3 separate regions of the Homo sapiens genome follow, and regions 1 and 2 are each reported to be linked to region 3. The links are microRNA targets in miRTarBase. Many come from high-throughput screens and were not tested one by one. Region 3 holds a microRNA gene; each other region holds the end of a gene's coding sequence.

Region 1 (3,248 bases), not on the chromosome of region 3:
GCTGCATGTACAAGCCAGGGCCACGGGCGTCCGAGCCTTGGGAGGGCGGGAGAACAGGTGTGGGCACCACCCCTCATTCCCAGCCCAGGTGGGGACATCCACTAAGCAAGGTTTATCTTTTCTCTCCCAAGTGCTGAGCTTGCAAGACCTCTGCTGCCGGGCGGTCGTGTCCTGCACGCCGGTGCACCTGGTGGACAAGCTCCCGCTCCCCATTGCCTTAAGAAGCCACCTCAAGTCCTTCTCGATGGCCAACGGCCTGAATGCCAGGATGATGCACGGCGGTTCCTACTCCCTCACCACCAGCTCCACCCACAAAAGGAGCAGCCTCCGCAAAGTGAAGCTCGTCCGCCCCCCCCAGAGCCCCCCCAAAAACTGCACCAGAAACAGCTGCAAAATTTCTTAAGGAAGGCACTGAAAGAAACACGGCGGAATCTCTCCAGGAGAAGCTCGGCGTTACCCCCGGCAGCTGGTGGATGCATCTCAGATCCCGGTTCCTCTCGGCGAATGCTGCTTGCGAATGTGTGCGACGCCTTCCGTGTGATGGAAACACACTACCCCGTCGGACTTCGAATTTCTACGTGGATGTGCATGAAGCTCTTGTTTTCGATGTGTGTTTGTAAAGGGAAAATTAGTACTCTGCTCGACTCTTGGTAACATGAAATTCTGAATGTTACTTTATCATGATTGCACTGCAACTTTTTCCTTAAAATAACTGCTTTTGTAAGAACGGTGATATTGGAGTGATTAGTATAAATTCAATGGAATTTGAGAAGCAATGGCAGCGGGATAATTTAGAGTCACTGATATTACGAGAGGGGTCTTTTTGTAAACCTCCTTTTCAATGTCAAAGCGCCAATTTATAAAACGCTGCAGATGTAGAGGTTATGTGCAACTGATCTGTCCAGTTTGTGTATGAAATGGATTTGATAAAGTTTTTGCTAGTTATTTACTACATTTTGGGATTAATAAGTGATTTATATGCATATTTTTCTGTAAATCTACAGTTTTTTGTACAAGATATTCTACAAGTTATGAAGCTAAGGGAAGAAAATGCCAAAGATACCTCTAGTTATGTTGAACACAGCCAGCACAGTTTCGACATGTCAAGGAAGAGCTGTTTCAGTAAAGAATGAAGTGAAAACACTTATTTAGGAAAATGTTTCTCAACAATAAAATGTATAGTTGTTTCTCTCTTGGTAGAGTTGGCGACCGGTTCTTTCGAATTTTGTATTTATTTATTTATTTATTTTTGAGACAGAGTTTCGCTCTTGTTGCCCAGGGTGGAGTACAATGGCACGATCTGGGCTCACCACAACCTCCGCCTCCCGGGTTCAAGCGATTCTCCTGCCTCAGCCTCCCGAGTAGCTGGGATTACAGAGGTGCACCACCACGCCCGGCTAATTTTTGTATTTTTAGTAGAGATGGGGTTTCACCATGTTGGTCAGGCTGGTGTTGAACTCCTAACCTCAGGTGATCCACCCACCTTGGCCTCCCAAAGTGCTGGGATTACAGGCGTGAGCCACTGCGCCCGGCCAGATTTTGTGTATTTCTTATAGCCCTTTACTTCACTGCGCCACTGCCTGGTGTAGACATCACATATCGGAGCTAATACACGACACTGGCAACAAGGCTGAATCCTTGAACTGTTGTCGCCTGTTGAGAAAGGATTCCTTTTCCGGAACAGAAGTGCAGAGGAGGAGAGAGCGGAGAGTTAAAAGCTGGCACCCAGGCATGTGCCTGTCTGAGAAATCAGAGCCGTGCTCCTGAGCCTCGGTGAGGAGCTCCGAGGGGCTGTCAGGAATTCCGCATGAAGATGTAGCCCCTGACCCCGACTGCCTCAGAGCAGGGCTGACCGCAAAGACCTCCAGGGCCGCTCTCTTCCCTGGTCACACTGTTGAACGTTTCTCTGTGGCTGGGGGTCGCAAATGAGGGACTAAACCAAAAAAACGAAGCGAGAAAATACCCAGATGTTCCTAGTTCCTGCTGATGATCTGTAGATTCTTAGAAACTTAAGGGACCCAGCTGGGTGTGATGGCTCACACCTGTAATCCCAGCACTTCAGGAGGCCGAGGCAGCCGGATCAGAGGTCAGGAGTTCAAGACCAGTCTGGCCAACGTGATGAAACCCCGTCTCTAATAAAATTACAAAAATTGGCTTGGCATGGCAGCGCACACCTGTAATCCCAGCTACTCAGGAGGCTGAAGCAGGAGAATCACTTGAACCTGGGAGGCAGGGGTTGCAGTGAGCCGAGATCGTACCACTGCACCCCAGCCTGGGCGACAAGTGAAACTCCATCTAAAAAAAAAAAAAAAAAAGAAATTTAAGGGACCCTAGAATCAGGGGCAAAGCCTGTATTCAGAGATGGTGGAACCGAGGCCCAGACAGGAGAGAGGAGCACTGGTCCCTGCGGGTGGACCCAGGCTTGGGGGTGTCTGGCCACCTGGGCACGGCAGCCACGGGGACAAAGTCCACGGGGAGGCAGGGGTGTGGTCTGTGGGCAGAAGGTGAACCCTGAGGGGACAGTGTCTGGAGAGGGTGGCCAGCCTCGTGCAGGCACGCTGCAAAGACCTGTGCACCCTTCTCTCTGCTGTGCCACAGGTGGGGTGAGAACGACAGGGCCGACCTCCCAGCTGCAAACACAAGGACACTGAGATGCACAGAAAGGAGAGTCCACGTTGAAGAAACCCACGTTGAGGGGCCTCTTCTCCCTCCGTTCCCAGCTCGCTGATGGTGAAGGGTAAGGAAATGGATCCTCCCATTGCAACATTAAACCAGGCCAAACCTGTATTTTTCTCTTCCTTCCTTTTTCTTGTTTTGTAATTGATGTCTCCTCGGGACTACTGATAATGTCCTAGAAAGAATAAAATAAAGTTTCCCAAGGCTTTGTGACTCAGAGCTCTTTGGAGGTGTTCACCGAATGCACGGGCCGCCCGGAGGCCTTGGCCCTCCAGGGAAACACCACCAGAAGTCCCCAGAAGCGGAACATGTAGCAAGGAGGCTCCCCGAGATCTCCCAGAGGGAGCACAGCCCTGCCAAGTTATTGGTTTTGGACTTCCGGCTTCCAGAGCTACGAGAAAATAAATATTTGTTATTTAAGTCACCAGGTTTGTGGCGATTGTTACGGCAGCCTCAGGAAACTCCTACAAGGAAGTGAGTTACGCTCACGGCAGAAAGTGCTACAGCAAACCAAGGCAGAACAAAAACAGACGAAACCTAATACAGACCGGACTAAGTAGAAGACTGTGTGT
Region 2 (3,211 bases), not on the chromosome of region 3:
GCTGAGCCATGGCCAGAGCAGGGCTCAGTCTGCCCCTGAACTTGCTGAATGGACCGACGAGCTGAGCCTGAAAGCCCAGAAGAGCCTCGGTCCAGAAGACGGAGACTCGGCCCGGTGTCCAGCGCAGCCCAGGGCTTCCTGGGGGGCAGCAGGAGTGCCTGGGGGTCACCGCCTTCAGGACAATGGCCTCAGTGGCTCTTTCTTTCTGCCCTGAACTGGCACCTGCACCTCCTCTGCTTCCTAGAGGGTGACCTGGGCCGAGCCGCCCAGTCCTTCTTCCCCTGAGGCCAGAGGGGACGCCCCGCGGCCACATCACACAGGATCCTCAGCAGCCATAGTCTCGCTTCAGGGTGTCCAGTGTTTCGAGGAGGAGAGGGGACAGGGGCCAGGTCCACTCCCTTGGCCCTCCTCTTGGACCCCAAGGCCAGGCCGGATCCTTTTATCCCGTGGGGAGCCCCTGCCTCGGCCATCGGGATGAGGTCCCTCAAGTCCCTGCACAAGCAGGTCAGAGACCCACCCACATGCCGTTCCTGGGCTACGCCACGCGCCATCCCCCGGGGCTGTGGACGCACCCAGCCCCCGACAGACAGGCGCCCTGAGAGCTCCGAAGGCGCGATCCCCATCCCCACCAGTGGAGAAGCCAGAACCGCGATTGTTGCATCTGGGAAAACCCAGCTGGAGCCGAACGGCCCGTGCCCCCACTGTAATTGTGCTGAAAATGTTTCTCAAATGACCCAAATTGGCTCTTATTTTTTCTAATGGCCCTTTCAAAGTATTCATGAAATTGATGCTGTGTCATAAAACAAAAATAAAAGATTTCACAGCAATGTCTGCTTCAGGCACACGGGGAACCACGCGTTTTAATCAACGTATCGATAAAAAACACCAGGGCACGGACACTCCAGGGGAAATGCTTATTGAGTAAAGTATCCGAGGAAGTGATGCAGGGCAGGTAAACAGCTGGTGCTCAGCAGCGAGAGGACGCGTCACTCTGCCGTTCTGCAGGGTGACGCCCTCCCCGTACCTCGCTGAGAGCCACCTGCAGACACAGCAGGCCACAGCAGAATGCACAGGTCACTGTTGTAGGGGAACAAATCGTAATGCCCAGAGAAAACCTGATAGTGAAATGTAAACAGACAGGACAGGGTGGTTCCAGGTGGCCACCACCGCCAGGCCCTTCCCGTGATTGATCTGAGAGCTTCACAGCCGGCGGCACTGGGACCCATTTCCAGAAACACTGGAACACCAGGTCTCTCAGATGCCCGCGGGAGGGGCCCCAGGGAGGCCTTTCTCAGCATCAGCTTTTGGGTGACAAACCCCATACAGCAAAACTGTACAAATACACACAACGGACCCCCAGCTGACAGTGAGACCAGGACCCTAGGAAGGTCAGGTGGTGGTGAAGTCATCCCCTCTCCAACCGAGCAGAGCCTGGGGTTGGGCTCTGATGACCTCCCGGGCAAAGTGTCCAGGTGGAGGAAGCAAACTCCCAAATGGGGCACAGAGGTAATAAAAAGCAGCTGAGAGACTGCGGGATGGGGTCGGGGCCACTTGGCCGACACCTTCTGCCTCGCCTGGCCGGGCCGGGCCAGCCTCTCGCCACAGGATGGAGGGTGACTGTGCACCCTGCTCCATGTACAGGACGGGCTGAGGGTCCCATGGCCACTGCCGACAGACACAGTAGTACTGCTCCCCACAGAAGCCCGCAGTCTGCACCCTCCTACAACATGATTTGACATCCAAGAAGCCCCTGTCACCAGCGCATCTGGGGAAGGGGCCGAATGGGGGTTGATGATGGTGACTGCACACACGGACACTGCCTCCAGCCATGGGGCAGCCTCTCATCCTCTCCCAGCCTCCCGTCTGGTACCCCGGCCCCCTCAGGGAAGAGGACATCCCATCCACTCCAGTGTTATTTCCAATCTGCTGTCTCCTTCCTTCACTTTTTTTTTTTTTTTTTTTTGAGATGGAGTCTCTGTCGCCCAGGCTGGAGTGCAGTGGCATGATCTCGGCTCACTGCAGCCTCCGCCTCCCGGGTTCAAACGATTCTCCTGCCTCAGCCTCCCGAGTAGCTGGGATTACAGGCACCCACCACCATGCCCAGCTAATTTTTTTTTTTTTGTATTTTTAGCAGAGATGGGGTTTCACCATGTTGGCCCGTCTGGTTTGAAACTCTTGACCTAGGTGATCTGCCCACCTCAGCCTCCCAAAGTGCTGGGATTACAGGCGTGAGCCACGGCGCCTGGCCTCCTTCCTTCACTTTTGAAATTAAAGCCTCTTTGCAAGTCCTGCTCTGAGAAATGGTCACTGCACATGGTAAAGAGGCCCTGAGCCCCATGGCCATCTCTCTTGGTGAGGGGTGGCGGGCCCGGGTGCTGTCTGAGATGCCAGCTCAGGAGGGCTCCATCCTGGCTCTGCTGCCCCAGGGCCGGCGTTCCCGGAGGGCTCCAGGTTCCCGGTTCTAGTCCTGGAAAGGCAGAAGGGAGAGGGGAAGGGAAGGGTGGGAGGGGCCTCTGGGAGGTGCAGCCCCACCCCATGCCCCACACCCCGGGACTCCTCGCAGACGGGGACACGTGTGGGAGTGTCCGCGGAGCTTCACATTTCAGGGCCGTCTCAGCCAGTGCCTCTGAAGTGGCCGCAGCCTTGGGGCCAGGTTCCCTCCTGAGTCCACCTGGGCCACATTGCTCCCACGGTGCACACTCCAGCACAAGAATGGCTCAGCCTTGATCCCCCAAACTGGGCACCGTCCCTGCATGTAGGTGTGTGGGGGGGCCTCAGCAGCAGACGGGGCCATGGGCCTCTGGTGGGGCACTCGGCTCCTGCTCCTGGGACGAGCTCCGGGGGGCCCTGGTGGCATTGGCCCGGACAGAGATATGGTCCCAGCCTCCCTGGAAGGAGAGAGCTGTGTCACCAGGGGACTCGGGGACTCGAGGATCCTGGAGGGGATCTGCCTGGGGGCCTCCCTGCAACCCAGACACCGGGTCCCAGGGGACAGTCCCACAGTGGTCGTCCCGTCTTCAGCACCCAGTGCAGGCACAAGGTGATAACACAGCCCAAGGCCGCGGGCCCCGCTCACCCCGATGCCGTAGTCCCAGCCGTGGCCCTTGGGCTCGTGAGGCTGCACGCCGGTGCGATGACACACTGTCCCCCGGCTCAGGCTGTGGCTGCCCTGCACTTTGTTGGCGATCACCCAGACCTGGAGCACAGACCC
Region 3 (3,248 bases):
CGGGGCATGTGTAGGATGGGGATGCACTGAAGTAGGGCTAGTAGTAAATAATGAGGGCTCCTGACAGTTTTTTTGTTTTTTTTTTGGAGACAAGTTCTTGCGCTGTCATCCAGGCTGGAGTATAGTGGTGATCATAACTCACTGTAGCCTCTAATTCCTGGGCACAAGCTGTCCTCCCACCTCAGCCTCCAGAGTAGCTGGGCCTATAGGCATGTGCCACCTTATTTTATTTTATTATTTTTTTTTTTTGGAGGTGGAGTCTTGCTATGTTGCCCAGGCTGGAGTGCAGTGGTGCGATCTTGGCTCATTGTAACCTCTGCCTCCCGGGTTCAAGCAATTCTCCAATCTCAGCCTCCCGAGTAGCTGGGATTACAGGCACACACCACCATGCCTGGCTAATTTTTGTATTTTTTTTTTTTTTTTTTTTTTTTAGTAGAGACGGGCTTTCATCATGTTGGCCAGGCTGGTCTCGAACTCCTGACCTTGTGATCTGCCTACCTCGGCCTCCCAAAGTGCTGGGATTACAGGCATGAGGCACTGCACCCAGCCAAATTTTTATTTGCTTGTTTGTTTTGAGACAGGGTCTCACTCTGATGCCCAGGCTGGAGTACAGTGGTGTGATCACAGTTCACTGCAGCCTCAACTGCTAGGGCTCAGGTGATTCTCCCACCTCAGCCACCTGAGTAGCTGGGACTACAGGCATAGGCCACAGCACCTGGCTAATTTTTTTGTATTTCTTTGCAGAGATGGGGTTTCACCATGTTGCCCACCTAGGCCTCCCAAAGTGCTGCGGTTATAGGTGTGAGTTACTGTGCCTGGGCTCCTGAAATTTTAAAAGGCAAAACTTTTGGCTGCTTAAAAAAACCTAATAGTTGGCTGGGAGAGGTGGCTCACACCTGTAATCCCAGCACTTTGGGAGGCTGAGGCGGCCAGATCACGAGGTCAAGAGATCAAGACCATCCTGGACAACATGGTGAAATCTCGTCTCTACTAAAAATACAAAAATTAGCGGGGCTTGGCGTTCCACGCCTGTAGTCCCAACTACTCGGGAGGCTGAGGCAGGAGAATTGCTTGAACCTGGAAGGCGGAGGTTGCAGTGAGCCGAGATCACGCCACTGCACTCCAGCCTGGTGACAGAGCAAGACTCGGTCTCAAAAAAAAAAAAAAAGCAAACAGAAAAACACAAACCTGATAGTCTATAAAAAATTTGCCTGTGTATAAATTAACATAAAAAACTTTAAAGGTAAAATGGAAGTTCCTTTTCATATACTGTTCTGCAACTTAGTTTCTTTACTTACACCATGAACATCTTTCCCTACCACTGTAAAAACTATCTTGAGCTTCTTGACAGCTATTTAATATTCCTTATCTTTGAGAAGCCATTGGTAGAACATCTGGACTTTTACTAATGTCTCATTTGTATAAATAGTGCAAGGATGTATAAGAATGTACATATTTGTTGGCAAACTTGGGTGCTTTTATGGAGTGGACTTTCAGCTGGCATTTACGAGTCAGAGTTCTTACAGAGCTGCCTGTTCTTCCACTCCAGGTGCCTTCAGGACAACAACTGGGACTACACCAGATCTGCCCAGGCCTTCACTCATCTCAAGGTAAGGTCTGGAAATACAGTGGCAAAAAGACTAGGATCTCTGGGCCTCCAGGAGGTCAGGTTAGCTGAGTGGGGTTGCTGAGTGGCGAGGGTAGGCCTACCTCTACTGACCTTCATTTTTCTCCAGGCCAAGGGCGAGATCCCAGAAGTGGCATTCATGAAGTGATCGTAGTCATGCCTCAGAAGCAGTCCCCCCTGTAAATAGTCCTTGGATATTACCGTCTGGTTGTCGTCTGTCATCTCCTCCTGTCTGGCCCGAGGCCGCCCCGTGACTGTGACCGAGGGAGGGAGGGCTGCCTGATCCCTCTCCTCGCCTGCCTTCTGGAAGACTTCAGAAGATTGAGCCTCACTGGTGCCAGGAAGCCAAAGCTTACTTTGTAGAACTGACACTAAACTACCCGAAGGACTTAGGTGCTTTGTGTACTTAACCCCAGGACCTCCTTACTTTTTAATATAAAGAGTGATGTTGTATTTCGTGTTCTGCACTTTTTAATATAAAGAGTGATGTTGTATTTCGTGTTCTGCGTGCTGGATTGGTTGTCTCCTCCCAGCCCTGAGCGAGGGGGGCGGGCCCTCTAGCGGGGGCGCCCAGGGAGGGCGGAAGGCGGCTCTGCGGCAGGAAGCCCCACCCCGGAAGTCGGCTGGCCATGGCGGCGCCTTGGAGGCGATGGCCCACGGGGCTGCTAGCCGTGCTGCGGCCCCTGCTCACCTGCCGGCCCCTGCAAGGCACGACGCTGCAACGGGATGTGCTGCTCTTTGAGCATGATCGGGGCCGCTTCTTCACCATCCTCGGGCTGTTCTGCGCGGGCCAGGGCGTCTTCTGGGCTTCCATGGCTGTGGCAGCCGTGTCCCGGCCCCCGGTTCCGGTGCAGCCTCTGGATGCGGAGGTCCCAAATCGTGGCCCCTTCGACCTGCGCTCCGCGCTCTGGCGCTACGGTCTGGCCGTCGGCTGCGGCGCCATCGGTAAGACGTGGGCTGGCTTCCCACTGTGACAACGTGGGGTGGCGGGACACGACCTTCCCTATACAGGCAGGGAGAGTCAGGGACTCCCTATCCGAGAGTGGCGGGCGGGCTTTACCCCACAGAAATGTGAAACACTGGCCGGGCGCGGCGGCTCAAATGCTGGGAGGCCGGAGGCGGGCGGATCACTAGGTCAGGACATCCAGACCATCCTGGCTAACACCGTCAAACCCTGTGTCTACTAAAAATACAAAAAATTAGCTGGGCGTGGTAGCAAGCGCCTGTAGTCCCAGCTACTCGGGAGGCTGAGGCAGGAGAATCAATTGAACCTGGGAGGCGGAGGTTGCAGTGAGCCGAGATGACGCCACTGCACTCCAGCCTAAGCGACCGAGCGAGACTCCCCTCTCAAAAAAAAAAATTGGGAAACAGTGATGTCTCCGAGCGCCGTGCCCTGTCATAGCCTAGGCTGAGGGCTGCCCTTCACTCTGCGACCTTGAGCAAGGTCCTTAAAGCTCTCCATCTTCCCATTAAAATGGAAACGGACATCTATTAAGGTTGTTGGGAGGAATAACAAGATTACTGGGTATAACAGGAGCTCAGTACTGCACTCCAGCCTGGCCGGCAGAGTGAGACTCAGTCTCAAAAAAAAAAGCGCTCAGTAAATACTACTTTCATCCCA

What was found. The annotated mature microRNA hsa-miR-6514-5p reads UAUGGAGUGGACUUUCAGCUGGC and lies in region 3 at 1,480-1,502, shown strand. An mRNA with a match to its seed (bases 2 to 7 or 8) in the 3' UTR can be bound and repressed. Matches are read on the target gene's strand: a 7mer-m8 pairs with bases 2 to 8, a 7mer-A1 pairs with bases 2 to 7 and ends in A, and an 8mer does both.
Region 1: the mRNA of RAB40B is a reported target of hsa-miR-6514-5p. Seed matches in the 3' UTR shown: 7mer-m8 at 2,289-2,295.
Region 2: miRTarBase lists TECPR1 as a target of hsa-miR-6514-5p. Seed matches in the 3' UTR shown: 7mer-m8 at 1,967-1,973.

What each region holds. Positions count from the first base shown.
Region 1 is chr17:82,655,018-82,658,265 of GRCh38, reverse strand. It overlaps RAB40B (RAB40B, member RAS oncogene family), which reads left to right. Exons shown (of 6, transcript NM_006822.3): 6 at 132-3,248. The coding sequence ends at 403. Among named protein-coding and RNA genes, the nearest start is that of WDR45B, 8.2 kb to the right of the region's middle.
Region 2 is chr7:98,214,616-98,217,826 of GRCh38, forward strand. It overlaps TECPR1 (tectonin beta-propeller repeat containing 1), which reads right to left. Exons shown (of 26, transcript NM_015395.3): 25 at 3,077-3,196; 26 at 9-2,888. The coding sequence ends at 2,775. BHLHA15 (basic helix-loop-helix family member a15) reads left to right here. Exons shown (of 2, transcript NM_177455.4): 2 at 1-842. Among named protein-coding and RNA genes, the nearest start is that of BHLHA15, 4.8 kb to the left of the region's middle.
Region 3 is chr11:62,791,003-62,794,250 of GRCh38, reverse strand. It overlaps MIR6514 (microRNA 6514), which reads left to right and starts at 1,480; the gene lies at 1,480-1,549. TMEM223 (transmembrane protein 223) reads left to right here and starts at 2,245. Exons shown (of 2, transcript NM_001080501.3): 1 at 2,245-2,572. The coding sequence starts at 2,257. It overlaps NXF1 (nuclear RNA export factor 1), which reads left to right. Exons shown (of 21, transcript NM_006362.5): 20 at 1,550-1,610; 21 at 1,737-2,121. The coding sequence ends at 1,775. RefSeq lists a silencer at 2,116-2,265 and an enhancer at 2,336-2,845.